Homo sapiens: one gene and its partners. The protein of the gene in region 3 interacts with the protein of the main gene of each other region in a pairwise test. Each region holds a gene or a part of one and is shown on either strand. Other genes may lie near its edges.

What was found.
Region 1: the proteins of SSMEM1 (region 3) and AQP10 interact in binary tests that used the Homo sapiens proteins (3 or more experiments, as listed by UniProt).
Region 2: the proteins of SSMEM1 (region 3) and SLC35A4 interact in binary tests that used the Homo sapiens proteins (3 or more experiments, as listed by UniProt).
Region 4: the proteins of SSMEM1 (region 3) and ALG3 interact in binary tests that used the Homo sapiens proteins (3 or more experiments, as listed by UniProt).

Annotation. Positions count from the first base shown.
Region 1 is NC_000001.11:154,316,466-154,324,092, reverse strand, and holds the start of AQP10 (aquaporin-10), read right to left. Parts: upstream 3,001-7,627; 5' UTR 2,938-3,000; coding exon 2,833-2,937; intron 2,164-2,832; coding exon of another isoform or gene 2,161-2,163; coding exon 2,034-2,160; intron 1,112-2,033; coding exon 974-1,111; intron 853-973; coding exon 734-852; intron 505-733; coding exon 287-504; intron 1-286. UniProt on the Homo sapiens protein: Aquaglyceroporins form homotetrameric transmembrane channels, with each monomer independently mediating glycerol and water transport across the plasma membrane along their osmotic gradient. Could also be permeable to urea.
Region 2 is NC_000005.10:140,560,846-140,568,513, reverse strand, and holds the start of SLC35A4 (probable UDP-sugar transporter protein SLC35A4), read right to left. Parts: upstream 3,687-7,668; 5' UTR 3,671-3,686; coding exon of another isoform or gene 3,656-3,670; intron 2,642-3,655; coding exon of another isoform or gene 2,543-2,641; intron 1,950-2,542; coding exon of another isoform or gene 1,752-1,949; 5' UTR 1,345-1,751; coding exon 370-1,344; 3' UTR 1-369. Other genes in the region: SLC35A4 upstream microprotein, read right to left, coding at 1,752-1,949, 2,543-2,641, 3,656-3,670; APBB3 (amyloid-beta A4 precursor protein-binding family B member 3), read left to right, coding at 4,269-4,317, 4,599-4,762, 4,844-4,920, 5,791-5,851, 6,015-6,161, 6,287-6,414, 6,665-6,670, 6,792-6,927 and 2 more. UniProt on the Homo sapiens protein: Mediates the transport of CDP-ribitol. Does not exhibit CMP-sialic acid, UDP-galactose and UDP-N-acetylglucosamine transport activity.
Region 3 is NC_000007.14:130,203,453-130,211,545, reverse strand, and holds the start of SSMEM1 (serine-rich single-pass membrane protein 1), read right to left. Parts: upstream 3,687-8,093; 5' UTR 3,636-3,686; coding exon 3,453-3,635; intron 2,260-3,452; exon of another isoform or gene 2,133-2,259; coding exon of another isoform or gene 2,121-2,132; intron 1-2,120. Other genes in the region: TMEM209 (transmembrane protein 209), read left to right, coding at 6,171-6,173, 7,436-7,572, 7,700-7,758.
Region 4 is NC_000003.12:184,245,933-184,254,033, forward strand, and holds the start of ALG3 (dol-P-Man:Man(5)GlcNAc(2)-PP-Dol alpha-1,3-mannosyltransferase), read right to left. Parts: upstream 3,031-8,101; 5' UTR 3,009-3,030; coding exon 2,813-3,008; intron 1-2,812. Other genes in the region: EEF1AKMT4-ECE2 readthrough transcript protein, read left to right, coding at 3,763-3,958; EEF1AKMT4 (EEF1A lysine methyltransferase 4), read left to right, coding at 3,763-3,958. UniProt on the Homo sapiens protein: Dol-P-Man:Man(5)GlcNAc(2)-PP-Dol alpha-1,3-mannosyltransferase that operates in the biosynthetic pathway of dolichol-linked oligosaccharides, the glycan precursors employed in protein asparagine (N)-glycosylation.

The DNA of each region.
Region 1 (7,627 bases), on a different chromosome or scaffold from region 3:
TCTTGCCTTAGGGAATTATCTGAATATATTAATTTTGCTGATGAAGTCACTAATGTGCATGGAAGTAATGTGGCATGCCTAAGAACACAACCTCTAAATCTTACTGTTTCAGTGAAAAGTTGGGAGGGAAGCAAGGGAGAAAGGGGGAGAATATGACTTGGAGAAAGAACACTGTCCTAAGAAGCCAAGAGAGCTATTTTAAAGGCAGAGTGCTGTGGACCCAGGGACAGAGCCCTTAGCAGAGGAAGGTGAGTGGAGGCCAGCACCAGGAGAGTCTGTCTCCCACCTGAAGACTTCAGGACCCCAGCCAGCCACGTAGGTGAAGAGACGTGGGCCCAGGTCCCGGGCAGGGTTGAGTGGAATCCCGCAGTTGGCACCCATGGATAACCCGAGGGCCAGGATCAGCATCCCCACCACCACAGGCTCCAGACCCGCAGGGACTCCCTTGTTCCGTCTGTCCAGGATGGCCAAGAGCCCCACAATCAGCATCCCAGTGCCCAGAACCTTGGAGTCAACAGAGGCAGAGGGTTCCCTGTCAGCTGCCAGGTGCTCCATCTGCCCTCTCTCATCCAAATATTCCATGTCATCTGGCTTTGTGCAACACAGGCAGTTGGGGATGGTGGGGAGTGCCAAGATAGACCCAACCCACACTCCACCCAGAGACTGAACAATAGGCTGGGGTGCCGAGGAACAGGACCAAAGTAGTGTCCCCAGGTCTCCCCCTCACACTTACCTGATCCAGGAAGCCATTGTTCAGGGACAGATAGGGGGCAGGATAGGTGGCAAAAATGGAGGCTGTCTCCTTGGGGCCAGTCACTGTCAGGTTCCCACCTGTATAGTTCTGTAGGGCATCTGTGGAGGAAGGGAACACCCAGGATTTCCCTCTTTGCTCATTCATCCAAAACCATTCTGAGGCACCCCTGCCCACCCACAGGTGCTCTCAAGGCACAGCTCCCTCTGTTCCCTCTGTCACCATGGTAGAGAACATAGGTGGCTCCCGAAGCACAGAAAGCAGACAGCAACTGCACCAAGATGTAAATGGGGAGCTTGACCCAGGGGAGGCGTCCAACGATGCACATGGCCAGGGAGAAGGCTGGATTCAGGTGGGCCCCTTCAAGTATCAAGGAAAGAAAAAGAGCATCTATTAAGTGTCACTGCCAGGCATTGTCACCAGACAACACTACTGCTCCTTCCTATAGCTCTTAAGGCAGATAGTGTAATTCTCATCACACAGCTTAGGAAATTGAGGCTCCAGATGTTACAGATGTTAAGTGACTTAGCAAAGTCACACTGTGGGCCAGGCACAGTGGCTCACGCCTGTAATCCCAGCACTTTGGGAGGCCGAGGCAGTGGATCACTTGAGGTCAGGAATTCCAGACCAGCCTGGCCAACATGGTGAAACCCCGTTTCCACTAAAAACACAAATATTAGCCAGGCGTGGTAGCAGGTGCCTGTAAAATCAGCTATTCGGGATGCTGAGGCAGGAGAATCGCGTGAACCCAGGGGCAGAGGTTGCAGTGAACAGACATCACACCACTGCTCTCCAGCCTGGGCAACAGAGTGAAACTCCATCTCAAAAAAAAAGAAAAAAAAAAAAAAAAAAGAAGAAGACACTGTGAATCCAAAGTTGGAACCTAGGTCTGTCTGCTTTTTCCACAGCAACACACTATGTCTCAAGGCTCCACCCAAGCACACCGATGCAGTGTGTATCTGGGGTACAAACAGGAGAGGTCCTGAGTGGAGATGAGCCCCCAGAGGACTTCAGGTGGGGGATACAAGAGGATAGCAGCTGCCCTTCGTGCCCTGCCATTGATTTCTGTCTAGGTGAGCCAAGCATTAGTGTGAGGAAGCAGGATGGAGAGATACAGAAAGAGGAGGGGCTGGTGGGGCCAAAGGCTTATTTCAGTCTGGGACACTGTTCAAGGGGATAATGTCCACGAGTCACAGAAGGATTTGCGTTTCCACCATCACCAGACAGACAAACTGGCATGCACATCCCACGTGCTCTGATGACCAGACCCCACCCTCCTCACCTGAGACGTTACCACCCACGTAGATGGCTATCGTAACGGCCAGAGAGCCAGCCAGAAACATGGTGAAGAAGTTGCCTTTGGTTTCTCCACTGGTGACAGCCTGGGCCACAGCTCCTTGGGTGAGGAGCTGCTGAGAAGAGGAGAGATGAGGAACAGGGAGCCCAGGAGACCAACAGGGAGAAAGGTTGGGAAGGCCAGGGGAGCAGCCAAGGAGATGAATGAGCACAGAAGACAAGCAAGGGAAGGAGAAAAGCAGAAGGAGGGAAGGGAAAAGAAATGGGGAAAGTGGAGGAAGAAGAAAGGGAAAGAATGTGGGAAAAAAGAAAAGAATTTACCCAACTCATAGGCATTTGAGGGTACAAACCCATGGCAGGGCTCAGCTTTAAAAAGTCTTATCTAAGATTCTTTCTATGGAAGAGTTCCATCAAAGCCAATTTTAAAAGCCTATGTGAAAAATAATTATTCTTGCTGCACTTTATACAATCATCAGGCCAAGTATAATAAAGCACATTGGTCTTACCATGAAAATGGTCTTTCATAAAAATGGGAAACTGAAGAGAGAAAAATTATGTTTCAAGAACTATGATACACTTGTTATTAAAGAAAGAATAAAAATGACAAGAATAAAAATGATGAAGTAGGAGAGGAAAGGAGATTAGGAGAGACGAGAGGATAAAAACGAAAAGTGATAGGGAGTTGAGAGGAAGGGGGACACCAAGAGAAAGAGATAAGGACAACAGAAGGAGCCAGGAACTTTTGCCCAACCCCCTTCTTTCCTTCCCGCAGTGATCCTACCTACCATGAGTACAAACACACCCAGAAACTCTGCCAGGCACTGCCGGGCCAGGAGGCTGCGTATCCGGAGGTGGCCCATGATTTCAGCCGGGGCCTGAGTGAAGACCATGGTGGAAACACCCTATTGCTATTCACTGCTCCCTCTGTCTGCATAGGCACACTGTCACTGCACAGCTACTGCCTGCCTCCAGCAAAGATAAGGAACAGACTTTAAAACCATTAGCTCAGTTCCTGAACAGCAGCTACGTGTCTGTGCACGTGTGTAGGCTAGGAAACAGAGAGATAACAAGAGAATGTCTGGGAGCAGGCTATGAACACAGAGCCTGGAGTTTACCCAACCTCTGTCTCTTTTACCCTTCATTCCCAGTCATCACAGGACTAGCCTCCCCCATCCTGACAAATAGAAGGAAGTACCCCGCTTCATAGACATTAGATCTCTTGGTCCTGAAGTCAGCTCTGCAAAGTAGTACTATTGCTTCCATTCTACAGATGAGGCTAGTGGGCCTTAGAACTCCCCAAGATCAAACTTTTTTTTTTTTTTTTTCTGAGAGAGAGTCTTGCTCTGTCCCCCAGGCTGGAGTGCAGTGGCACCATCTCAGCTTACTGCAACCTCCACCTCCCAGGTTCAAGCAATTCTCCTGCCTCAGCCTCCCAAGTAGATGGGACTACAGGTCCATCACACCTGGCTAATTTTGATATTTTTTAGTAAAGACTTGGTTTCTCGGGAGGCCGAGGCAGGCAGATCACGAGGTCAGGAGATCAAGACTATCCTGGCCAACATGGTGAAACTCCATCTCTACTAAAATACAAAAAAATTAGCGTGGTGGTGCACGCCTGTAGTCCCAGCTACTCGGGAGGCTGAGGCAGGGGAATCACTTGAACCAGGGAGGCGGAGGTTGCAGTGAGCCGAGATTGTGCCACTGCACTCCAGCCTGGCAACAGAGCGAGACTTTGTCTCAAAAAAAAAAAAAAAAAAAAAGACGGGGTTTCACCATGTTGGCCAGGCTGGTCTCAAACTCCTGACCTCTAGTGATTCACCTTCCTTGGCCTCCCAAAGTGCTGGGATTACAAGCGTGAGCCACCGTGCCCGGCCCAAGATCACACAATTATTTCATGGCTGAGTGAATTCAAATCCAGATTTTCTGACTCTCCAGCTGGTAACCCACAAAGCCTCTCATTTAGAACCTGAAGCCTTACCCCAAACCATTTGGATGCTTGAAGAACTCAATAGGCATCTGGAAAGACTGGGCTAAAGACCACAGACTGTGGGAATGAAACTCACATATTGAGTGCTTGTACTTCCCTTATGCCGAGTGTCACATAGGTTAGAGAATACTCCATCTTTGTGTCCCCTGACATGGCTTGACATGAGGCCTTCACACTCATGCTGAGCTCCACCTGGCCTTCTCTGGGTGCATGCCACTCTTGCTCTGCATGAAGTAACCGCATCCTACTTCTTCATATCTCAAGGCTCCAATTAAATGCATTCAAAGAATCTACGTCTAGACACTGGAGAAACAGTGGTGAACAAAACATAGTCTCTGCCCTCCTAGAGCTTATGTTCTAGTAGGTGGAAACAGACAATATGCAACTTTTTAAAATACCATATACAGTTTATGAAGTTCTTGAGGGCTACCATTATGATTTATGTAACCCTGTGGGCTCTACCACTGTCCTGGGCACATCTGTGTGACTAGTAAAGAAATAATATTTCTTTACTAGGTTTAATGGATACTATAGTGCTCCACCCAGATTCCCCCTTGGGAGCCAATATGCCCATTCGCTACATGTAGGAAATACCAGCTGCTGATACCACATAGCTACCTCCCTCATTGGGCAATGCCCTTCAAGTCAGAAAGATGCCTCACCGAAGGTTACATGCCCTCCTATGGGGCCCATGTCAAACACTGATTGATGGAGGGATATAAAAGTCTAGCCTCTTTGCCTCACTTTGCGACAACTCTAAAGGGCTGTTCCAGCTCCAGTTCCCCCATAGGATCCATTTAGGCATCTGTTATATCATCCATGTGTGTCAGTTTCTCCTGGTGCCTAATCTTGTTACAGGAAAGGGGTCTGAATCCAGATCCCAAGAGAGGGTTCTTGGATCTCACACTAGAAATAATTCAGGCTGAGTGCGGCGGCTCATGCCTGTAATCCTAGCACTTTGGGAGGCCAAGGCGGGATCACAAAGTCAGGAGATTGAGACCATCCTGGCTAACATGGTGAAACCCCGTCTCCATTAAAAATACAAAAAAATTAGCCGGGCATGGTGGTGGGCGCCTGTAGTCCCAGCTACTTGGGAGGCTGAGGCAGGAGAATGGCATGAACCCGGGAGGTGGAGGTTGCAGTGAGCCGAGATCGCACCACTGCACTCCAGCCTGGGTGACAGAACGAGACTCCGCCTCAAAAAAAAGAAAAAAAGAATTCAGGGCGAGTCCATAGAGTAAAGTGAAAGCAAGTTTATTAGGAAAGTAAAGGAATAAAACAATGGCTACTCCATAGACAGAGCAGCCCCGAGGGCTGCTGGTTGCCCATGTTTATGGTTGTTTCTTGATGATATGCTAAACAAGAGGTGGATTATTCATGCCTCCCCTTTTTAGACCATATAGGGTAACTTCCTGTCATTGTCATGGCATTTATAAACTGTCATGGCATGAGCCACCATGCCCGGCCATGACCTGTATCTTATGGCAACCTCCTATCTCATTCTGTAACTTAGAATGCTTTAACCATCTGGGAATGCAGCCCAGTAAGTCTCATTCTCATTTTACTCAGCTCTTGTTCAAAATAGACTTGCTCTGGTTCACGTGCCTCTGACATTTCCCCCCTTCCTTTTATAAGAGAAGCACTAATCCTAAGGGTTGCAGAGGGACGAAGGTCCATCTTCTGTAAGTTCTTCAGGATGAATAGGGGCGATGATATTTTTGCCTAACTCTTAGAATCTCTCATATTCGTGGTAGAGAGGAGCTCAGTTGGAAAGTGTTGGTATGGGCCAGGCGGGATGGCTCATGCCTGTAATCCCAACACTTTGGGAGGCTGAGGCAGGCGGATCACCTGAGGTCAGGAGTTCAGACCAGCCTGGCCAACATGGTGCAACACTGTCTCTACTAAAAAATACAAAAAAAATAGCCAGATGTGGTGGCGGGTGCCTGTAACCCTAGCTACTCAGGAGGCTGAGGCAGGAGAATCTCTTGAACCTGGGAGGCGGAGGTTGCAGTGAGCCAAGACTGTGCCATTGCACTCCAGCCTGAAAGAATGAAACTCCATCTGAAAGAAAAGAAAAGAAGGGAAGGGAAGGGAAGGGAAGAAAAAGCATTGGTATCTTGAGGGCCATTCATAACTCATGAGTTCTGACAAAAGGTGATACTCTGGAAGATTCATAAGTGTTCAGTTTAAGGAAACATTCAGTAAGCTTGTCCTCCATTCCTATACAAAGATTACAACAGCTATACATTCCACAACCATAAAGCAAAATAAGTAAAATTATCCCAAGTAAACTAAACTAGAAGGCTTTCCATGAACTGAGGAACTGTTGGAACCACGCTGATATGAGGTTGCTAGATGATTCCAGTACATGCCCAGAATTAGAATATTGATGCAGATTTTTACATTACCCATCCCTCTTGTTTCTTCTGAGCAGCAGTCAGAGGCCACTGGTTGGTTCACAGGACTAAGCAGGGTTAGCCTAAATTGCAGAAACAAACTTAAAGACAACTGATGAGACTGGAATTTAATAACAAGTGTATCATAGTTCTTGAAACATAATTTTTCTCTCTCCAGTTTCCCATTTTTATGAAAGACCATTTTTATGGTAAGACCAATGTGCTTTATTATACTTGGCCTGATGATTGTATAAAGTGCAGCAAGAATAATTATTTTTCACGTAGGCTTTTAAAATTGGCTTTGATGGAACTCTGTTCCATAGAAAGAATCTTGGATAAGACTTTTTAAAGCTGAGCCCTGCCATGGGTTTGTGCCCTCAAATACCTTTGAGTTGGGTAAATTCTTCCTCTCCTTTTGAGGTCCCCAGATAACTTGGGGCTCCTGGACCTTTTAGAAGGTGACATTCTTTACTTACCACAGGTCAGAAACCCTGTACAGGGACTGTGTAGGCAAGGTTATGAGCCCAGGTCGCTAAGTGGCTTTTATAGGCTTTACAAGTCAAGTTTGATTCCTTAATGGAAAGCACACCATTCCAGTCAAACCCTTCATAAAATAAACAATTTCTCCAATTGTGTCCTGTTGCAAAAGAAAACAGATTCTTATTACCCTTATGCAAATAACTGCATTGCCATAAATTAAGAATACACACAAATAATTTCCAAATTCTGGAGAAATCAAGTAGAGAGATGCATATACTCCAAATTTTGTTCACAGGAGTATACTTTACTCGATTATTAAAAGCTGTAAATATCTGAAAAGAAAAGTTGCCTTGACTCTAAAAAATAAAACAAAGGATCAGCAATGTTTTAAGCAAAGGCAAAAAGATTGCTTTAGTCTTCTTTAGTTTATGCAGTTAACTTTTGTTTGATATCTATGAACATTTCAGCTCCCCATGAGAGTTCTGAAAGTTGTTTCCTCTATTCTAATGTCACAATCTCCAAAGTTATCAGAAACCTGCATTTAAGTGCACCTGTTAAAGTCCTATGGCTGATTATAAACTACCTTCTAAAGAAGATCAAAACAAGACAACAATTGTCTGTGGATGATAAAAAGTCTTAGGGCCAGGTGCAGTGGTTCACATCTGTAATCCCAGCACTTTGGGAGGCGGAGGCAGGTGGAACATTTGAGGTCAGGAG
Region 2 (7,668 bases), on a different chromosome or scaffold from region 3:
TTGTTGCCCACACCCCACTTTCATCAACTCTGTTCATGCAGGACAAAGCAGGGAGCTGCCCAACAAGGATGGGGTTATTTCTCAGGCCTAGGTATTGATGTTACCTTAATTCTTTAGTCTGGAAGAACTTGGTTGGGGGTGGGGGATGGTAAGCATTTCCTTAACCAAACCCACACTTCACATCTCCTAGGGGTACCCCTTCATCCACCAACCTCCAGAGAATAACCTGGCTGCCCTCACTTCTCCAGCTTTTCTCACAAGGCACTTGTTACAGGGCTGCTGATGGGAGAGGGAGGAAGGCCTGGGAGGGGGATCTGGTGGTGGCGCCCAATCTACAGGGTCCGGAATCAGGGTGGAAGTTGTCAGGGACTAGCGGCTGCCATAGTACAGGCGCATGGCCAGGCCAATGAGCAATGTGGCCAGGAAGAAGGCGGCTGTGAGCTGCAGCCGTAGCAGGACTGCTGAGAGCACGGCGTTGACCACCAGCGAGCAGGACACCACAAAGAGGCGTGTGATGCTGCTGCCATGCTTCATGACAGCAGACATGAGCAGTCCATTTAGTGCCTGGCTCAGCACCACGAGTGCTGCCCATCCTGAGAAACCTTCCAGGAGGCCTGGGCCAGAGCCGCCGCCAGCATGCAGACCTAGATTCAGAAGCACACCAAAAGTGTAGAGGAAGAGGTTCTGAAGTGCCAGGGGCAGCCGCTGTCGCTTCATGAGCAGCTCTGTGTACACTGACGACAAGCCTGAGATGAGGCAGTACAGAATGAGGAGCAGCAGGCCTAGCGGAGTGATATGCAGGGGCATGGGGCTGGCAGCAGCTGCTGGAGGGGGACTGGGAAGGGTGTTCCCGGGAACTTGAAGGCCCCCTGCTGCATAGCAGGCTCCCGCAGCCATCAGCAGCAGCAGCGCTAACCCCTGACGCACAGAGAGGCGGTGCCGGAGGCAGAGGCAGTAGAGCACAGCTGTGCTTCCAATCTTGAGATTACTCAGCACCTGGTAGGTGCTGGGGTCCATGTAACGCTGAAGATAGATCACCAGGTTGTTGTTAGCGCCATAGAGCAGGGCTGATAGTGCGAAGGGAGCAGCCTGGCGCCAGGGTGGGGGCCCCTGGGGCCATGCTTGCCAGCCTACCAGAAGGGAGAAGGCGCATAACAGTAGCTTGGTCAGCTCAGTCAGCAGCACGGCTGAGGAGGGCCGGAAGGGCACTCGGCCGTCCACATGGCACAGTGCCAGCAATGGGGCATGGGCACCGTACATGGCAGTGGATAGGAGTAGCATCAGGGTCCAGCGGGCCTGCCTGGGACGGCCCAGGCCTGGCATACCCCCATCCTCTACACTCATACCCACACAAGACCCTGGGTGGCTAAGGGGCAGCAGGGATTGCAACACGTTTGGGGAAAATCAAGTTATGGAGCCAGCTCCCAGGAAGGAGAAGCCGTGGAACATTGCCAGAGAGAATACTGAGGATCAGAGGCATCTACCAACTCCACAGTCAGGGCTTGAAGAGTAAGGGGCTGGTGGTCCTTGAAGCCACAGTCTTGGGGCGAGTCCCATGGAGCTAGGAAGGGGAAGAAGGAATCCAGGGTGCAGGCTGAGGAACTACTGTCCACAATCTGCAGGAAGGGAGGCAAGGATGAAGGTGGCAGGAAAGTTGGAGATAGCAAATGGATGACAGCTGGGGAATCCAGATAAAGTGTCTCCACCTGAAGGCTGAGCTGCTCATCCTGCCTCTTCCATGGCACCTAGAGCTAGTCGGGCCCCTTGCGTAGCAACTGCAAATAGTCCCTTAATGTCTTCTCCACGTTGGGCACAGCATATGCCTGAGCCGCATAGATGCCAGTGCAGGTGCCCACAGCAAAGCCCAATACTGCTGATGCCCTCAGTTTGGCCACCACATAGCCAGCCAGGAATCCCTTGAGGAACGGGGAGGACAACAGCGAGCCATCCTGCAGAGAAAAATGCAGAAGGAAACTTAGCTAGGCTCCTTCCTGACTGTCCAGGGGCTACTCAAGCTGGGATTAGAGCATTCCACCACCAGCTCCTCCTCACCCTGGACAACCGTGGTATTTTCTCCAGATTTTTCCCAAGGTTCTGGGGCCAGAAAAAGAACCAAGCAGTTCTGATCACACAATCTCAGAACCCTGGGGTCAGAAAGCTCCAACCATAGAACTCCACCGCCACACAAGGTCAGAGATGCCCCTAGCCCTGCCGGTTTCTCCAGCCTCATTTCCTAGCATGCTCCCCAACTACTGTAGCCAAATGGACCTCCTTTCACCCCTCATGTTTATAATGCTACTTCCTACCACAAGGCCTTTACATATGCTGTTCTGCCTGGAATGTTCTTTCCTCCCCTCTTCACCTACTTAACCACTACTTAAGATATTAGTTCATGTGCCATTCAGAAAAATTGTCCTTAGGGTGACTGAGAATAGGCCCTCAATAATCACTTGCTGAAGAAATCTCTACCATCCATTTAACACTCTCAAGAGCATGTTGGGCAATAAAGCCTAAGGCAGGGGTGGGGTGGGACAGTCCTTACCTGGCCCACTCCACTGTTGACTTCGTCTTCTACACGCCGCTGCAGGCTTTCCAGCTGGTTCTTGAGAAATGCCAGGTCCTTAAGCTTAGGCAGAGAATCCTAGGACAAGCGAGAGGCTGGCTCCAGCAGTCTGACTAAGCCCCACCCCTTGCTCAATTCCATCAGAAGCTGGGAATTGGGAGGGGATGGGGTGAGCCAGAAAGACCTTTTCCTATAAAAGCTTCCTGAGATGGCAGTGGCAAAGAAAGACAAGCATTGAAAAGCACAGAATTCAAATGAGGGCCAGGAAGGGACTGACAGATGGGATCTGAACCAGTAACTTACATCAACCTTGACAAGAATTTTATATAGCAAGCAGTATGTAGGAAAGGCAGGAGGGACAGCTAGGGACCTTTAATTAGGTCCATCAGGAAACCACTACTGACTCCATTATGAGCTCCTTGAAAGTCGTGACCAGTCTGTCTTGGCTACTATGTTCTAGTGCCTGACATTTAGTAAATGTGTGGGTAATGCTGAGCTTCTAGACCAATGGTGAGTAATGGACCGAGGCAGTTTCCTGGACAATTTTATTGTCTTGGTTCCTGGATGGGCTTTACCTCTTTCTTCCCAAGGACATCCCAAACTGAATGTGAGTGACTGGATGTGACTGAGAATGACAAAAAAGACTGTCGGCAAGTGTGTAAGTAAATGGACTGAGTGATTTTGATCGCATATAAGTATGAAATTCAGAATGTATGCAAAGGAGTGTTTGAATGAGGGTGGTGTGAGTGTCCGTGTGATTGGAAACATCGTGTCACTGGGAAGAAAATTTCGGGAGCTAGGGAATGGGGTAAAGTGAGGAGTGTTTAAGGGTGAATGTTTTTGAGTCTGTGCTAGTAACGGGTTCGTGATGGTTCCCAGGAGGGGACATCTGGGGGATCCACGGCTCCTCCCGCCTCGCCGAATGCTCTCCCCACACCACTCCACACTGTTGAGGCAGTTGACAGGAGCCGCAGAAGAAACAAGGGACATCCTCACTCCTGAGCCGCTCCAGAGTCGCTTCTCCCCGGAACTAAAAAGGTCAAGGAGAGTGAAGACCACGCCCGGCTGCAGATCACCCCCACGGCCACTCACCTTGTCATCCGCCATCTTCCCCGCCGAACTTGTTGCGCAGGCGCATCCCCGCCTCCCTCGTGCCGACTGCCCCGGCCATCTTTACGGAGGGCGAAGGCACTTCCGGAGCATTTTTGGAAAGGGGGAGGTGCTTTCCTAGTGGCCAAGTACGCCTCTCTCAGATACTTCCACGTGACCCCCTCCCGTCGAGTCTCAGGCTGCGTGTGAGCGCACTCACGACCGGGGCGCGATGATCTCACTCGTGCGCGAGTGCGCGCGGCGCATGTTCGGCGTGTCGGTCTTCAGGCGCCTGATGAGTTCATAGTTGGGCGGTGGTGTCAGCGGTTTCGCTGGCGTTCGTGGGCCTCCCCCGGACCCACACACGGAAACACGCAACCATTCGGGGATCCAGACGCCCGTTTACACGCACCACCCCTGGGCGGGCTGTGCGGCTCAGGCCCTCCCCCGGGACCGGCCCGTGTCCCGCCCCGTGTCCCGCCCCGTATTTGTGCGGCGCCAGCTGGCCCCGCAGCCTGCGGCGCAGAGAGGCTGGGCTTGCAGGCGCAGTAGCTCCAGAGGTCGCGCTGGGCTGAGAGTGCGGGCCGGCAGAGGCTGGCGGGGAGCAGCCGGGGTTATGCTGGGCAAGGATTACATGCTGGCCATCATTCTGGTCAACTGCGATGGTGTGCACGGAGGGGCCCGGTGGGAAGACCAGGAGCTGAGGGAGGACGAGGGAATCCGAAAGGCTACTCTGGGGCTCAAAGACGGTGGGGGATACCTCTCTGTGTAGGGACCAGGGGGCGAATGAACCCGGTCTTTACATGTGATGTCTTCAAGATTGAGGAGCCTGGATCTTCAGCCTAAGAACTGACCCATTTTGGGGATGGAGAGGGGATTATGACAGCATGTTATTCTGAACTCACAAATCATATGCTCCCTCCTCTCTAATCCGGTGTTCCTGTAGATGACTTGTGGGGGGACCACAGTCTGGAGGTGGAGGCTGGCCTGCCTCCTGGCTGGAGGAAGATCCACGATGCTGCAGGTACTTACTACTGGCATGTACCCAGCGGTAGCACCCAGTGGCAGCGCCCAACCTGGGAACTAGGAGATGCAGAGGACCCAGGCACGGTAGGTAGAGTGTGAGGAGGAGGTCTGAGCCCATGTGTGGACCTAGGTCTGCTGTTAAACTGACTAACTCCCACTCTACAGGGAACGGAGGGGATCTGGGGACTGCGGCCCCCCAAAGGGAGATCCTTCTCCAGCCTGGAGAGTTCACTGGACCGGAGGTAACGGGTGGCCCAGGCAAAATGAAAGGCTTGGGGTTCCATGGTGTTCAAAAATGCAGCTGGACCCATGGTCTGCTTTCCAGCCCAGGTTCTGGATTCTGTCACATGTTTTGGGTTCTGTTACGTTCTTGGCTCTGTCCCAGGTTCTTAACTGTCAGTATTTTGAGTTTTATCCCTTGTTCTAAGCTCTTGTTTGTAGCTACATGTTTTTCATATTCTTGGTCCTAACCTATCATGTTCTAGACCTTGGCCATTAAGTCCTCTGTTCTAGGGTCTCTTGTCCCACTTTGGGGTTCTGGTCCACATATTGGACCCTGTTCTATTTTGTGACTTTTATTTTTTATTTTTTGAGATGGAGTCTCACTCTGTCATCCAGGCTGGAGTGCAGTGGCACGATCTTGGCTCACTGCAACCTCCGCCTCCCAGGTTCAAGTCATTCTCCTGCCTCAGCCTCCTGAGTAGCTGAAACTACAGGCACATGCCACCATGCCCAGCTAATGTTTGTATTTTTAGTAGATATGGGGTTTCACCATGTTGGCCAGGATGGTCTCGATATCCTGACCTCATGATCCACCCGTCTCAGCCTCCCAAAGTGTTGGGATTACAGGCGTGAGCCACCACTGCACCTAGCCTTGTGACTTTTATTCTATGTCCTGTGTCTGGGTCCTATGTCCTGAATTTTCCCTCAAATTCTGAGTCACACTTTATGTTACGTTAATATGTCCTGGGCTCTACCCTGCTCTGGTTTTATATTTCTGGTGCTATATTCTGGGTCTTGCCCCTCATCCTGTGCTTATCAAGTTGTCTAGGCCTCACCAGTGTCCCTACTGTAGGAAATGTGGTCCTCTTAACAGCTCTGCTCTGTTTCAGTAACTCTCTGTCCTGGTATGGTGGGGAATCCTACATCCAGAGCATGGAGCCAGGGGCTAAGGTAGTGACTTGGGCCTGAGGGCATTGGGAGGTCCCAAGGGAAAGACAAGGGTGGGATTGGACTGAACAGAGGTGATCAAGGGTGAAGACAGGGAGTATGTATTGTGGCACCTGCCACCCTACTCCATCCTTATTAATTCCTGTCCCTTCCCCCAACCTGTCAGTGCTTTGCAGTCCGCTCTCTGGGCTGGGTAGAGGTACCTGAAGAGGACCTGGCACCGGGGAAGAGCAGTATTGCAGTCAATAACTGTATCCAGCAGCTGGCCCAGACCCGCAGCCGGAGCCAGCCTCCAGATGGTGCCTGGGGTGAGGTGAGTTGGCTGGGCCCTTTAATGGTTTGGGCCCAGGGCCCAGCAGAGGTAGCTGTCCCTGAATTTCCTATTTCTCATGGCAATGACCTTTATCTGAGCTCTGGGCTGACCTCTGTCCTTGGCAGGGCCAGAACATGCTGATGATCCTGAAGAAGGATGCCATGAGCCTAGTGAATCCCCTGGACCACAGTCTGATCCACTGCCAGCCTCTGGTGCACATCCGTGTGTGGGGCGTGGGGAGCTCCAAGGGCCGGTGAGGATGCCTACATCCCCCAAGCAAGAGCTACTTCTCCCTCCCGGCTGCAGGCTGTGATCCCCACTGATGCTGATCCCCAGTACTTGAACCCCTGGACACAGATCCTCTGATGTGGACCCAGGACTGCTTCCCCTGCCTGGTCCAGCCCTGGTTGGGGAGGGTGGGCCCAGCTCAGCAGGGACAGTTTGGGGAGAGTCCGAGAGGCTGGGCTGATTCCCTTCTGTGCTCCCACATGCTTCCGGAACAGTGACAGGTGAGTGAAAACCAGGTATCCTGAGCCCCATCCCTGATGTCCCTACTCCATCCCTGCTATATCCCTAGCCTGACTTTCCAGCCTCCTGCAGGCTCCTGCCTCTAACCAGCTTCTACCCCAGCCCCATCTCTGCCCCTGCTAGGGACTTCGCTTTTGTGGCAAGTGACAAAGATAGCTGTATGCTCAAGTGCCATGTGTTTTGCTGTGATGTCCCTGCCAAGGCCATTGCCAGTGCCCTACATGGGCTTTGTGCCCAGGTAAGTGTCAGGGGTGGGGCAGGGAATGTGGGTAAGGGGTTGGGTCTGAAGCTTCCAAGGTAGTTGGGGTGGTATTGGCCCTTTTACCCTAATTCCCCTCTCTCCCTGTGGGTCATGCTGGCTTCATTGTGTTTTAGATCTTGTCAGAGCGAGTAGAGGTCAGTGGTGATGCCTCTTGCTGCTCCCCAGACCCCATCTCTCCTGAAGACCTGCCACGGCAAGGTATGGGGAGGGGAGACCTGCATTGCTGCATTGGGGTGCTTTGGTGCTGCTTTGTGGGGGGGCGATTTCTGGTTATTTAATACTTCTGTGGATAAATTTCTGAGATGTCTGGTCTCAGGGATCCCAAGCCACTAGTTGGAGGAGCATCTATGAGCCATTTCTTCTACCAGCACCAGCTCTGACCTGAGTCCTGGCCCATTGAGAAGGGTGGGGAAAAGGGTAATTGAAAGAGCTTCCAGGCCAACTTGGTGTGTATATTTCAGTGGAGCTGCTGGATGCGGTAAGCCAAGCTGCTCAGAAGTACGAGGCACTGTATATGGGGACACTGCCAGTCACCAAGGCCATGGGTGAGGACTGAGGGGGCTGCATGTGGTGGGCTGTGTGAGGCAAGGGGAAGGTGAGTGAGGTGAGGCCTGTTATCATTTCTCAAGAGTCCTCCCGTGGCCTTGTTATGGCCTGGGGTCTACCAGCCTTCCCAAATCAGAATTCTAAGGCTTGCCCCAGCTATCCTATTCCCTA
Region 3 (8,093 bases):
AATGAGGTGCCTTTTTGTTTTCTGGGTTACAGCAATCATTCTCCAAAAATCTTGAAAGCGGAGTTCACTTTTAAGATACCACTTTCTGGCCAGACACGGTGGCTCATGCCTGTAATCCCAGCACTTTGGGAGGCTGAGGCGGGCAGATCACAAGGTCAGGAGATCGAGACCATCCTGGCTAACACGGTGAAACCCTGTCTCTACTTAAAATACAAAAAAAATTAGCCGGGTGTGGTGGTGGGTGCCTGTAGTCCCAGCTACTCAGGAGGCTGAGGCAGGAGAATGGTGTGAACCTGAGAGGCGGAGCTTGCAGTGAGCAGAGATTGCACCACTGCACTCCAGCTTGGGTGACAGCGAGACTCTGTCTCAAAAAAAAAAAAAAAAAGATACCACTTTATAAAAAATGCTTTTGGAAGAGGCTTAAATATTTTAAATTTAATATGTATCACTTAGGTTATAGAAAAGGAAAAAAATAAATTTAATATATGTAAAGAAAATCAAAATAATTGGAAGTTTATAAACCTAAAAGTTAACAGTAGTTGGTTATTTCTACATAATCTGGAGTGATTTTTATTTTATTTTGTCTTCTGCCCTATAATTTCCACATTTTCTATATAATGTGTACTTTTGTAATAGACAGGAGAAGGTATTTAAAAACACTTATTAGGCTTATATCATTTCCACAGAAAGCTCTCACATTTGATGTCAAATCAAAACATAGCCACAAAATCAAAAGAAAGATTTTGCATTAAACTAAGTGGGATCATATGAACTGTGGTTACGAAAAGCATTTTATTAACTGTCTTTGTGACTCAGTGAGTGAAAACAGCAGGAGTGCCTGCCCTGAGGGGCAGAGTAGAAAATGTGGGCCGTGGCTCTCTTTCTGCCACTAACAACTCTTGATTTTTCCAAGCCACTTAACACCTCTTAAGCTCAGTTTCCACATAAGCAAAATAAGGTGTTTGGATTACCATTGTCCAGAAAAATACCAGCACTAGCAATCTGAATAAACACAAAATAAAAATATAAACTAAATATAGTATTTATAGTCTGAAAGCAAAAGGGTAAATGCCACTTTAAAAAGTGGCAAATTCAGAGGAAATCAGCGTGCTTCATGTTGGAGGATAATTACCACCACATTTCCATCGTGCTTTTACCATTACTTCAAGGTTTGTAAATAAAGCCTCATAGTTTAGCAGAGAAAATGAAGAAGTTCAAAGTGAAGGAAAAATTCCATCCTCCTTTACTAGCTCTCATATTGTTCTCAGATTTCAAATCTGGGACCCTTCAGAAGAAGCAGTCTAGCTGATTGTAGCTGCCACAAGGGTACAAAGTGAAAAACGAAACCTCTAAAATAATTAAGGTTTTAATCAGGACTGAGTAGATCTAAGTGGACATTTCAAACTATGCTTTGAAGCAAACAAATAATTTGACAGGAAATCTGGGTATATTCCCCTTCTGTCACTAACACTTTTGTGACATTGGACAAGTCACTTAATTTACTTGGGGCTTATCAATAAAAAAATGAGTGGGGGAGGGATAATGATAACTTACTTGCCTACAAACAGAAGGCTGGACCACATGCTCTCTTGAGGTCCTGGAAGCTCAAGGCTGTATGACTCCCAAGAGCTGATGCAAGCAAGGGAGCAGAAAAAATAGCTTAGACTGGGCCAGGCGTGGTGGCTCACGCCTGTAATGCCAGCACTTTGGGAGGCCGAGGCGGGTGGATCACGAGGTCAGGAGTTCGACACCAGCCTGGCCAACATGGTGAAACTCCATCTCTACTAAAAATACAAAAATTAGCTGCGCGTGGAGATGCACGCCTATAATCCCAGCTACTCAGGAGGCTGAGGCAGGAGAATCACTGGAACCCAGGAGGCTGAGGTTGCAGTGAGCCAAGATCGTGCCATTGCACTCCAGCCTGGGCAACAGGGCGAGACTCCGTCTCAAAAAATAAAAATAAAAAAAATAGCTTAGACCTCTTAATTCATGATGAAATTTTTTTGGTAATTTTCTAAAGTAGCTTTGCTTGCCAGGCCAAATTCAATATACTTAGCTAGGGAGTCTAAGACACATATAAGCTATCATTATTCTAAATCTCCTTTTGGCAAAGTATTTACCTTAAGAAGCATTTAGACTTTAGATGAAAGTTCTTCACCAGGAGGTGGTGGTTATCAAAGAGTCTTTGATTAGAATGGAATCCAGCTGGCATGGACATAACAAACCTTCTCCACCCCATCCGAGCTCATAGAGCATTAAGTCTTACCACTGCCAGCCCAGGCCTATGGCTATAATGCTAAATGATGGTGGTTTTCTTAATCATCAGCCTGGTATTAATGGCCAGCAAGGATATCATGTCAGCAAATTATAAGAGCTTGGTTACGGCTGGGCGCGGTGGCTCATGCCTGTAATCCCAGCACTTTGGGAGGCCAAAGCGGGCAGACTACTTGAGGTCAGGAGTTTGAGACCAGCCTGGCCAACATGGTGAAACCCCATCTGTACTAAAAATACAGAAGTTAGCAGAGCGTGGTGGCTTGCGCCTGTGGTCCCAGCTACAAGGGAGGCTGAGGCAGGAGAGTCACTTGAATCCGGGAGGCGGAGGTTGTAGTGAGCCAAGATTGCACCACTTCACTCCAGCCTGGGTGACAGAGCAAGACTCCATCTCAAGAAAAAAAAAAAAGAGCTTGGTTACTCATAATATGTTGGAAGCATCACAGTCCTGATAAAGTGGGATATCTCATTCTTAAGACGATGGCATTTTAGTGGTGACTTTAGTTCTGTTTAGTCTAGTTCTGCTTATTCTGTGCAGAAAGCGTATTGCTTCATTCTAAAAACCCCAAAATCCTACAGCATGTATCCTATCAATATGACAACTTTCATATCTTTGATTAGAATCACATGGCTAGAAAAGGGATTTGGAAGTCATTAACCAGCAGGGAGGTTTATGCCAGCATTACATAGCAGATGGATAAACTGTAAACAATCTGAATGTTTCAAACTTGCACAATTTTTTGGTGCAATCAAAATATAGAAAATTATGCAGTCATTAAAAGTGCTGCTGAGTGAATATAATTTAAAGAAGTATTTCTGATATATTATTAAGCTTAAAAAGCAGGATATGAAAATATATGCAATATAATGCCAACCATGTAAGATCAAAGATAGAGAAATGGAGAGAGATATATTGGGAAAGGCAGAGAAAAAAACCAAACTGGAAGAACATACTCCAAAATGTTAACAGTGGTTATCTCTGGGAAAGAGGATAACTGTAGCTTTATATTTTCCTCTTCATCCTTTTCCATATTCCTGGATTCTCCAGAATAAGATTGCATTATTTTTAAAACTAAACAACTTTTAAAAGTAGTTTCATCAAAGTATAGTAAATGTATTTTATGGAAATTTTCCTAGTGTACAGTAAACATATTATTTAAAATGAAAAAAAGATATCCTACCCAGACAGAAGCCCTAGAGAAGAACATCAGGACAAATACGATAACAAAATACCAAAGCAGGAAGCTCCCTATGGTTCCACAAGAGTCATCCTTCCAGCATTCATAATCCTGATTTGGAATGGCACAATTTACAGGTATTGGGGGAGGATCTACCTCCCAAAATAAGGAAAAAAGGTCTCCCATGATGACTCCTTGCTCAGAAAATAAACCATGCTTAAAGGGATAAAGATGACTGGGAACTACTTCACTCCCTCTATGATGTATGACAATTTCCTTGGCAACCTATTATGACACATACTTAAGCAACTGTTCTAGGAACTGACAAATGCTTCTTGGACTTCTAAGTTTGTGGAAGGTTATTCAAATTACTCCTCTGAATGTTTATGTTATTTTCCCCCATACCTCAATATGGTGCATTCTGCCTTAATTTTTTTTCCTAAAACTTGTATATGCTATATTTTCCTATCTTCACGTCTAAGTGTTTAATGTATCCACTCATTTTAATTCAGTCTCTTTTATATGTATCATGCCATTGCAAATTATCATAGACAGTTCTAATGTATTACCGATCAAACTGTGTTCCCTAAAATTCATATGTTGAAGCCCTCACCTCCAGTGTGACTCTATTTGGAGACAGGGCCTTTAAGGAGGTAATTAAAGTTAAATGAGGTCATAAGGGCCCTAATCCAATACAATTGGTATCCTTACAAGAAGACAGCAAGGATTCACGAGCACAGAAATCAAGGTCACAATACAAGGGGGCCGTCTGCAAGGAGACCCGCCTCAGGAGAAACCAACCCTGCTGACAATTTGATCTTAGACTTCCAGCCTCCAAAATTATGAAAAAAATAATTTCTGTTGTTTAAGCCACCTGTCTGTGATATTGCGTTATGGCAGCCCTAATACATAATGCTGTCATTTGGTCAGTGGTGTTCTTTTTTAAGCCTTGAATAAATGCACAACAGCTTATAGATTAAGAGGGAAAAACACAGATGTGCCCGTTATGAACTACTATGAACTACATCAAATGCATACAATTTCTTCTTAGGAAAGAGTCACATATGGAGGGGGTGGGAAACCGGTATTCTAATTTTTTTTTTTTTTTTTTTTAGCAGGGTCTCACTCTGTCGCCCAGACTGGAATGCAGTGGCACCATCTTGGCTCACCGCAACCTCGGCTTCCCAGGCTCAAGTGATTCTCCTGCCTCAGCCTCCAGAGTAATTGGGATTACAGGCGCATGCCACCACGCCCTACTAATTTTTTGTCTTTTTAGTAGAGACAGGGTTTCAGCGTCTTGGCCAGGCTGGTCTCCATCTCCTGACCTCGTGATCCGCCCGCCTCGGCCTCCCAAAGTGTTGGGATTACAGGCGTGAGCCACCGCGCCCGGCCGGTATTCTAATTTTGATTGCACCTTGAGCCCTTTCACTTTGAACAATTTTCCAGTTAGTTCATCTCTAAATCTAAAACTAGAGCAAAACAACATTGCTGCTAAAGCAATCTAAAAATGATAAAACTTAACAGCTCTTCAAGAGCACAGCATACCTGCCGATTTTCATTAATATACAATACCACGTGGTATTAATCTTAGGATCATTTTAGGAAAAACTTTGGCCATTGGACATACATGATGTAATCCACTAGCTTACTGTGGCATGGCTTAATGTTTTTATTAGGAGGCACACTTCAGAACAAGTCCCCAGGCCCTGGGTTTCTGGCTGTGGACTCTAACGCGTCATCTCCTCCAGGAAGCTCGCGAGAGCTGGGGCTGGGCTGGATGCGCCTCCTTGGGGAGCACTGCATCCACCTCACCTGCCACCGAAATGCATCTGTGGGCCTCCGCTGGGGTTGAGCTCCTCTGGGTAATAACCAGGAAGGTCTTATTTTCTATATCCGTGCGCCTGGCTCAGCGGCACACTTGTAGGTATTTGTGCTAAATAAAACAAAGCTCAACCTTTTCCTCAGGATGAGCAGCTCTTCCAAAAAATACATACGAAAATGTGTTATTATTTTTAACCTCAAAACCACTAGCAACTTCAATAAAACAAATTTTGGGTGTGCTTGTTATTGCTGCACCCTATTAAACAGATTAAGAATTTAGGCCGGGCGCGGTGGGCCACGCCTGTAATCCCAAAAGGCGGTGGGAGGCCAGCAGGCGTTTGGGAGGCTGAGGCGGGCGGATCCCTTGAGGTTAGGAAATCGAGACCAGACTGGCCAACATGGCGAAACCCTGTCTCTACCAAAAAAAAAATTACATGGGGTCAGGACTCTTGACATAGATACTTTAACACAGGGGAAAGAAATGCTTTGTCACTGATGGTGTCTGGCCACTTTATCACGCCACTCTATCCTACGGTGAGCCGCCCTACTTAATCAGTTTACACATGTGAGTCCATAAATGCCCTAGGGAAGCTAAAATTATATTAATAGATACAAAATTCAGCTTGTTACAATTATTACTTTTTACTGCGGGTTCAGAGCCTGGTCTGAATTTTGCTGCTTAGCTTTCTCCCGCAGCTGAGTGGGAGCCGCAAAACCGAGACCTGTTTCCCTGGTAACGCTCCGAGCGCCTGGGCCTGCGACCCCTCCCTTTCTCGCGAGAAGAGACTACCTAGTTCTTCCGGTAACTTTAGAGCCGCTTGCCGGTGGCCTCCCGCTTGAGCTTGGCTTTGCGCATGCCCAGAGAGAGTGGCGCGAGCCTGCGTTTTCCGGCCAGAGGACATGGTGCGTTTTCGGGGTCGTGTTTGTGCTTCCTGTCTTGGAATCTACGCGGGTTGTGGGAGTTCCGCGCCTGCTGATCTGTCCTGGGTTCAGCCAAGGGGGATGTGGCTAGGCGTTCCGCCTCTCTAGGGGAAGGGAAGAAAGAAGCAATAGGGTTGCTGAAGTTCGTGCCCAGGAGCCGGGGAGGGAAGCTCTGGACTGGGAAATTGGGACGCGGGGGCTGAGTGGCGCGAAAGCTATTGCTCTGTCCTCTGTGGGATACGACTGCTTGTCGCTGGAACAAGTTTTGCACGGTCTGTAAGAGTTGAGCCTAGCTGAAGAAAGGAGGAATTATAAATCCCAAATGTGGACCAAAACAATGCACGTTTTCCCCTCTCTCCCTCTTACTCCGCTCACCACCCCATCATAAGTACGTGCCCTTCTAAAACTTGGATCCTTGTCCTTTATCCACACACAAAAGGGAGAGCCCTGGAGTACAGCTGTCCAAGTGCAGAGTTGTTGAGATAGTAATGGCGTCTGCATGAGGATGTACAACAGTCTTTATGACTTACAGCAGATATGGAATATAGTCTCCCAAAACTTGACATTTTGAGTTTCTGAAGTTAGCCTTTTGCCTAGTCCGTGTAACATACCCCAAAGACAAAATACAAAGTATTTCTAGACATAACCCTTAAATTACAAAATAAGACATTTTTATGTATTGGAAGTATTAAATTGTTCTTAAATAACCAGCCACGGCTGGGCGCGGTGGCTCACGCCTGTAATCCCAACACTTTGGGAGGCCGAGGCGGGTGGATCACAAGGTCAGGAGTTCGAGACCAGCCTGGCCAAAATGTTGAAATCCCGTCTCTACTAAAAATACAAAAATCAGTCGGACGCGGTGGCGGGCGTCTGTAATCCCAGCTACTCGGGAGTCTGAGGCAGGAGAATCGCTTGAACCCGGGAGGCGGAGGTTGCAGTGAGTCGAGATCGCGCCACTGCATTCTAGCCTGGGAGACAGCAAGACTCCGTCTCAAAACAAATAAATAGATAAATAACCAGCCACTTCTCTGTTGATTACACTGTGATGCCAATTAAGTTACATATAATTTTGGGTTCCCTTTTCATATACTGATATTAAAATGGAAGAAGTTTTGATAAAACATTTTAAAGATGAGAGAAGGTATATGCGGTTTCAGTTACCTTTATAAGGGATGCAAAATTTGGTTTTTAAATGGAGCAATAGTTTCTTCTGGTTAATTCCTGTGCTTTTTGTTTTTTCATAGATGCAGGGGGAGGCACACCCTAGTGCTTCCCTTATTGACAGAACCATCAAGATGAGAAAAGAAACAGAGGCTAGGAAAGTGGTCTTAGCCTGGGGACTCCTAAATGTATCTATGGCTGGAATGATATATACTGAAATGTAAGTGAATCAGTCCAAAAAAAGTGAAACTTTAAGAAGCCAGTGGCTGGTTCCACAGGTTTTTGTGTTTGTTTTTGATTTTTGGTGTTTTTAGGTTCACTGGAAAGCCTTTCTAATTTTTTTTCAGGACTGGAAAATTGATTAGTTCATACTACAATGTGACATACTGGCCCCTCTGGTATATTGGTAAGTAAGTAATTTTCACTGTAACTTACATTTACCAATAAAAAACTGCCTTCAGGTTTAATTCAGCTTAGTATACATTTCCTTATTCAACAAGTATTTGACTGCCTGCTGGGTTGTAAAAACTGGGAATACAGCAGAAAGGGAGCAAGGTAAATCCCTGCTATTATGAAAGGAACATTCTGTTAGACAATCAGATTAATAACACTTCAGGTAATTATGAGTTCTGTGAAGAAAAATAAGTTTAGAGGTTAGTGAGATTTGTTTTTATTACTCTCCTGAAATGCGCTTTCTGTGTCTCTACCTTTTTACTTTTCAAGACCAGCCCAGATTTCTGC
Region 4 (8,101 bases), on a different chromosome or scaffold from region 3:
TAATCTAACTCTTTATCTGACATTCTCTGGGTGAGCCCAGGCATCTCAAACTCAACATTTCTATAAGTGAATTTGTGATCTTTCTTCCCATTCCAATCTACTCCTTTTCCTGGGTTCCGCAAATGGCACCACCGACCTCTTAGCTACCAGGTCACGAACCTGAGTAACATCTTTGATACTCCCTCCTCTCTCATTTGCAACCCTTCGTCAACAAGTTCTGCCTGTTCCTCACCGTAAATATCTCTATCTCATCCTTCTCTGCTACTACATACTCAAATTTGAGCCTAAAGTAATCTCTAGCCCCAATGAGTATACAATAGCCTGCTAATTAGGCTCCTGACTTCTACTTTCACCCTGCTACAATATATTTTCCACCTCGTACACCAAAGAGCTCCTCCTAAAATACAAATCATAACAGGCCTCTGCTTAAAACCTCTCAATGATTCCCCAAGACCCTTAAGATAAAGAAAACTCTGTATTATTCCCATTTTTTGAAGGGGAGCCTAAGAATTAATTAGGTTAAGTGACTGGCTTAAGATAATTGAGCTAGGATGGTGGAGTTGGGATTGAAGCTTGCAGGGTCCCAAGTTCTTAATTATCATGCTATCTTCTTAACAAAGCTTTCAAATTCCTTCATGATCTGGCCTCAGTTTCTGCATTCCCATCTCTTACTACTCCCTTCACTTGATTTCTACACTCTAGCTCTAAAAAAATCATTTCAGTTCCTCAAAGGAACCAGGCTGTCTTCTTTTTTTTTTTTTTTTGACAGAGTCTCACTCTGTCACCCAGACTGGAGTGCAGTGGTACGATCTCAGCTCACTGCAACCTCCGCCTCCCGGGTTCAAGTGATTCTCCTGCCTCAGTCTCCCGAGTAGCTGGGACTACAGGTGTGTGCCACCATGCTTGGCTAATTTTTTAAGTTTTGTATTTTTAGTAGAGATGGGGTTTCACCGTGTTGGCCAGGCTGGTTTGTTTGTTTGTTTTTCTTTTGAGACAGGGTCTCGCTCAGCCACCCAGGCTGGAGTGCAGTGGTGCGATCTCAGCTCACTGCAACCACCATCTCCCCGGTTCGAGCCATTTTCCCATCTCAGCCTCCCAAGTAGCTGGGATTACAGGCACTTGCCATCATGCCCAGCTAATTTTTCTATTTTAGTAGAGACAGGGTGTCAACATATTGGCCAGGCTGGTGTTGAACTCCTGACCTCAGGTGATCTGCCCGCCTCGGGCTCCCAAAGTGCTAGAATTACAGGCATAAGCCACCGTGCCCAGCCAGGCTGGTCTTTAACTCCTGCCCCCAAGTGATCCGCCCACCTCAGCCTCCCAAAGTGCTGGGATTACAGGCATGAGCCACCGTGCCCAGTCTAACTGAATTTTTTTTTTTTTTGACACGGAGCTTGCTCTGTCACCCAGGCTGGAGTACAGTGGCGCAATCTCGGCTCACTGCAACCTCCACCTCCCGGGTTCAAGCAATTCTCCTGTCTCAACCTCCCGAGTAGCTGGGATTACAGGCATATGCCACCACGCCCAGCTAATTTTTGTATTTTTAGTAGAGACAGGATTTCATCATGTTGGCCAGGCTGGTCTCAAATTCCTGACCTCAGGAGATCCACCCGCCTAGGCCTACCAAAGTGCTGGGATTACAGGCGTGTGCCGCTGCGCCCAGCCTAGCTGGAGATTTTTAATAGAGGATCCTCTGTCCACAGCACTCCTTCCCCTCACCTTTTTCTTCTTTCCTTAAATAGCTAATTCCTACCTTCCAAGGGTGGCTCTATGAAGCCTTTGCTGACTCCTCCAACCTGGTTTAAGTGACTTCCTATGCCCTTTATGGTATCCTGTGTTACTACTACCATGATTATGATGCATTATAATTGCCTGCTAACTTACTGTCCAGGCCCGAGTTAGAAATGCATCCTTTTTCTTTTTTTTTTTTTGAGACGGAGTCTTGCTCTGTCGCCCAGGCTGGAGTGCAGTGGCGTGATCTCGGCTCACTGAAAGCTCTGCCTCCCGGGTTCACGCCATTCTCCTGCCTCAGCCTCCCGAGTAGCTGGGACTACAGGCGCCCGCCACCATGCCCGGCTAAATTCTTTTTTTTTTTTTTTTTTCAGTAGAGACGGGGTTTCACCGTGTTAGCCAGGATGGCCTCGATCTCCTGACCTCGTGATCCGCCCGCCTCGGCCTCCCAAAGTGCTGGGATTACAGGCGTGAGCCACCGCGCCCGGCAGAAATGCATCTCTTATTCACCACTGTACCTCTCTCTGGTAACCAGCATAATGCTAGGCATATAATAAGCACTAAATAAATATTTGTTGAATTAAGAGTCTTTAGCAAGAAAGCCAAGTGCCTTAAGCCTAGAGTATAGTTTCAGCCTGGAAAGGAGTAGCCAATAATGCCTAATGGACTCAAGTGGTCACAAGATGCCATCATTGAGAAGGGACGTTCAAAGATCACAGAACTGAACACATGGAAAAAGCTGAGATCCAGGAGGAGACCTGAGGTGTCCAAAGCCACAGAGAAAAGCAGCAGCAGCAGCAGTACAACAATTTTGGCTCAAATCTGACTTCTAAGCTGGTTTGCAGGCTGTAAGTTCAGTGCAGAAGGCCAATCTCTAGGGTATCCACCTCTGCCATGCGGGCAGATTAAGATCCGGTTTTCTGTAGAGCAGGCTTGGCGCTCAGGTAAGGGATATGGATGGGTTCGCAATTGACGAGTGAGTGGATACAGAGTCTGGTTTGGAGTTCCAGGTCTGAGATCCAGTTTGGGTCGCGGGTTCAGGTCTCCCTCCCTCCCCTCCCCTCCCCCTCGGCGCACTCACATGCCACCCTGTGAATGACCCAGAAGGTGATGCCCACCTCCGCCAGGCAGAGGCAGGCGGCCACCAGCAGCGTGTAGCGCGGCTCCCGCAGCAGCAGGCGCCGCTCTTGCCAGGCGCGCTGCAGCCATTGCTTGCAGAGTCCCTCTGCCTGGGCCGCGGAACCGGACCGGCCGCGTTTCCGCAGCCCAGCCGCCATCTTAACGGTGCGCCGCTTGTGTGGGCCCACCACCCCCGGAAACCCGAACCTTCGACACTTAGGTTCCGCTTCCCGTGCCTGGCGTCCCACCAGGCTAAGCGCCGATCCGAGTAGCCAGTCTTCATTTACTCCACTAAAATGTAATTTTTCTGCATTTGTCTCCTCTGATGCACTCCACGCTCCATAGGAGCAGGGACAATGTCTTACTCCTCAGTTTATACCCAGCCCTGGGTACACAGGCGCTAATTTAGAACGAATGTCCAGAAAAGCAACATTCCTGCCTACCTCCCCCACAACCGCTGAAGCCAGCATTCTCCTTCGCCTGCGCTGGGAACATCTGTGTTCATGCTGTCTCTCCAGGAGGGCAAAGCCCCTGTTCGCGCCCCTCCTGCCTGCCCTTCGAGCCTTCCGGATGCTGAGAAAAATGAACCTTTCACTAATTTTCAGATTTCCTGATAAAAGTCATTCATATTGAAAATATGAGAGGACGCAGTGATGAGCCCACGTGAGTCTGACACCTTGAGTGCGGCCCTAGGAAATGACTTGGCAGTACAGCCGGAGGATTCAGGGTCTGGACGATAGTTTTCCCAGCCGGAGGATTCTTCGAAGAGCGCTTAGTAAAGGACGGAAGTTCCACGTGTTTGTGTTGAGCAACTGCAGGTGGTGGGCGGAGACACCAGCGCCCCGCCTTCTGCATCCTGCCTTCCGTATTGGCTGAAGGGCCGGCGGCTCTGGCTGCCCGGCGGTTGAGAGCATGGCCTCTCCAGGGGCAGGTAGGGCGCCTCCGGAGTTACCGGAGCGGAACTGCGGGTACCGCGAAGTCGAGTACTGGGATCAGCGCTACCAAGGCGCAGCCGATTCTGCCCCCTACGATTGGTTCGGGGACTTCTCCTCCTTCCGTGCCCTCCTAGAGCCGGAGCTGCGGCCCGAGGACCGTATCCTTGTGCTAGGTGGGTAATCCCGGCGCGGCCCCGCCAGGTAGAGCTGGCAGGACCGGCGCCGCATGGGCTTGGCCTGGTCCGCTTTCCTCCCGCCTGTCTATCCCTCTTGGAGGACGCCTGCGTTGGGACGCGAGATCCAGCTCCTTCAGAGTCCCGGCTGTATTTAGTCAAGGCTAACAGGAGTAAGAGATTGTTGGTCCCGGGGCCCTCTGGAGAAAGACAGTCCCTCAGAGTTTGAGCGTTGGGGGTACCCAAGACCCTGTCCGGACCCTCGGGAGGCAGGCAGCCTTGGGGACCGGATTGCTCAGAGGACCGAGATCAAGTCCTAGCGCTAATTGACTTGTAAAACTTAGGACAAGTCATGAACCCGTTCTGAGCTTTAGATTCAGTTCTAGAAATGGTACTGCGAGTTCACATCGGAGGCGGCACGCGCAGGCACCTCGAGAATAATGCCCAGCGCTTTTCTTTTTGCCCCTGGGCACTGGGAGCCAGAGTCACCTAGAGAGAGTCCTGTCTGAAACTTGGTCCTATGCCTTAGAGAGTGAGAACAGCACCCTCTAGGGGTGGAGGGGAGATTGCCGCCCAGGGTGATACGATTCCCCAAAGGGAGACGTGCTGGAGGAAAGGTAGGGCTCTGGGGTGTTCGGCTGACCTCTTGAGGTTCTCTCCTAGTGTCAGCCTTGGAGGCGCTAGTAAAGTTTGAATGAGCAACAGATTTTCTTCCAATTGTCGTTTTTACTTTGCTCTTTGTAAAAGCCTTTGTATGTTTAAGTGAAGTCTTTAATAAATAAAAAAGGTATATGTAATATATATGTAAGGTATAAATAACAAATCTAATGTGTGTGTCTATTCCACTCAGTTTGAGAAATAGAACATTACTAGGGATAGAAAAAAAAGTATAATTTAGTGGTTAATAACTTGGCTGGGCGCGGTGGCTCACGCCATTAATCCCAGCACTTTGGGAGGCCAAGGCGGGCGGATCACCTGAGGTCGGGAGTTCGAGATCAGCCTGACCAACATGGAGAAACCCCATCTCTACTAAAAATACAAAAAATTAGTCGGGTGTGGTGGCGCATGCCTATAATCCCAACTACTTGGGAGGCTGAGGCAGGAAAATCGCTTGAACCAGGGAGGCGGAGGTTGTGGTGAGCCAAGATCATGCCATTGCACTCCAGCCTGTGCAAGAAGAGCAAAACTCTGTCTCAAAAAAAAAAAAAAAAAAAGAAAAGAACTTGGACTCTGGGCTGGCCTCATGATTCATGCTCATAATCCCAGCACTTTGGGAGGCCAAGGTGGAAGGATCACTTGATCGCAGGAGCTCAAGACCAGCCTGGGCAACATAGTGAGATCCCATCTCTACAAAAAATTTAGGCCAGAGCAGTGGCTTATGCTTGTAATCACAACACTTTGGGAGACCAAGGCGGGTGGATCATTTGAGGTCAGGAGTTCAAGACAAGCCTGGCCAACATGGTGAAACCCCGTCTCTACTAAAAATACAAAAATCAGCCAGGTGTGGTGGCACGTGCCTGTAATCCCAGGTACTTGGGAGGCTGAGGCAGGAGAATCACTTGAGCCCAGGAGGTGGAGGTTGCAGTGAGCTGAGATTGCACCACTCCACTCCAGCCTGGGTGACAGAGTAAGACCCTGTCTCAAAAAAAAAAAAAATTAAAACTTAGCTGGGCATGGTGGCCTGTGCCCATAGTCCGAGTTACTCAAGAGGCTGAGGCAGGAGGATCGTTTGAGCCAGGAGATCCAGGCTGCAGTGAGCTGTGATGGCTCCAATGGGCTCCAGCCTAGGCGACAGAATGAGACCCTGTCTCAAAACAAAGCAAAACAAAAAACAAACAAACAAAAAACCACCTTGGACTCCAGAGGCAGTGAATTATGTTGGAATCTTGGCTCGGCTTATACTGGCTGTGTAATCCTGGACAAAATACTTGAATTTCTGTGCTTCCATTTTCTCAACCTTAAAAACATAAGCATATTTATTAATTGGGCTTTAAGTTGATTAAATGAGCATGAAGGATACCTAGAACAATGCCTGGCAAAATGAAAAGTATATTCAAGGTTCTCTGTGTGGTCCTCCTAAAACCCCTTCTCCCCACAAGTAAACACTTTCTTGAATCTGTGATTTTAAACCATTGCACTTATTTATAGATTTACCTTAGATCTGTTTTCTCAAGCTTTAGTGTGTATCAAAATTACCTGGGGAACTAGACTGCACTGTGAGATTCTAATTCCAGGGATGGTCTAATGTGGGTCTCAGGAATCTGTATGTTCAACAAGCTTCACAGCAGATTCTTATGCTGGTGATTGGCAGAGTAACACTGCCTTAAAATCTGCTTGACTGGTTTTTCACCAAACTGATGCTTTAAAAAAAATCTGCTTAACTGGGAACTATCCTTTTCTGGATAGGAGGGGCAAGAAGTCTAAAAATCAAAAGGGGAATTTCTAGAATCCCCAAGATGTAAGAACAGGACCCACAACTTGGGAAATACTCTACGTTACATTCCACCTCAACAGACTTAAGTTGAGTGCCTGATAAGAGCCAGAGAATGTGCTGGGCCCTTTCTAACTTACTTAATCCTTATGACAACCCCTGAAGACAAGTCAAAAGTACTAAGAGACTTACTCCAGGTTAGGGGTCTGTAAACTTTGTTTGAAAATGGCCAAACAAGTAAATTTTTTAGGCTTTGCAGGCTACACAGTCTCTTTTACAATGACTTGGTTCCGCTATTGTAGTGGAAAAGCAGCTACAGACAATACAAAAGTGAATGATGGCCGGGCAGGGTGGCTCACGCCTGTAATCCCACCACTTTGGGAGGCCGAGGCGGGCGGGTCACCTGAGGTCAGGAGTTCGAGAGCAGCCTGGCCAGCATGGTGAAACCCCGTCTCTACTAAAAACATAAAAATCAGCCAGGTGTGGTGGCAGGCACCTGTAATCCCAGCTACTCCAGAGGCTGAGGCAAGAGAATTAATTGCTTGAACCAGGGAGGCGGAGGTTGCAGTGAGCCAAGATTTCACCACTGCACTCCAGCCTGGGTGACAGGGTGAAACTCCATCTCAAAAAAAAAAAAAAAAAAAAAAAAAGTGAATGAGAATAGCCATGTTTCAATATAACTTTATCTAACAAAATAGGTGGCAAGCTGCATTTGGCAACCCCTGCACTCATTGTCTTAGATTGAGTTCCCCAGAAGCAAATCCTGAGATGAGGATTCATGTCCAAGTTACTTGTCAAGAATGTGCTCCCAGGAGAATTGGTAAGAGCTAGAGGGAACAGAGAAAGGGAAGAAGCAAAGTTTCCCTGAAGGTAGTTTCAGCCTGAAGAGTCACAGATGTACACCATTAGAAGCAAACACACACCAAAACCCAGGGATATAAAAATAAAAATCGGTAAAAAGACTCCCAGGGCATCTGGTCAGAACACTGACAGTGTCCACTACTGTCATGCAGCAAGGAAGTGGTAAAGTAAGGGTGCTTTGTGACACCACACAGATGGGAGTAGGGAGGCATCTGGAACTCTTAAAACTGGTAAAATGACTACATTGTGAATTATAGCCTAATGGTCATATGGATATAGCTAACAATGGAATGTCACGACTGAAGGTGAGTGGGCCTCTTGAAAACTGGGAGGCAGTTGAACACAGTGGTTTAAGAGCTCTGGCTCTGGAGCGATAGAGGCCTGGGTCCAAATTCTGGCTCTTCCACTGACTATGTGACCTTGAGAAAGTTTCTTACCACTTTCCTCAATTTTCCCATGTAGAAAATGGGAATAGTAATAATAGTGTCTTTTTTTTTTTTTTTTTTACATGGAATCTCGTTCTGTTGTCCAGGCTGGAGTGCAGTGGTGCAATCTCAGCTCACTGCAAACTCCACCTCCTGGGTTCAAGCGATTCTCCTGCCTCAGCCTTCCGAGTAGCTGGGATTACAGGCGCCCACCACCACACCTGGCTAATTTTTGTATTTTTAGTAGAGACGGGGTTTCACCATGTTGGCCAGGCTGGTCTCCAATTCCTGACCTCAAGTGATCTGCCCGCCTCGGCCTCCCGAAGTGCTGGGATTACAGACATGAGCCACTGTGCCCAGCCAATAGTATCCTTTATATGGCTCTAACATGAAAGTAAACTGAAATAATTCTTATAAATGCTTAAC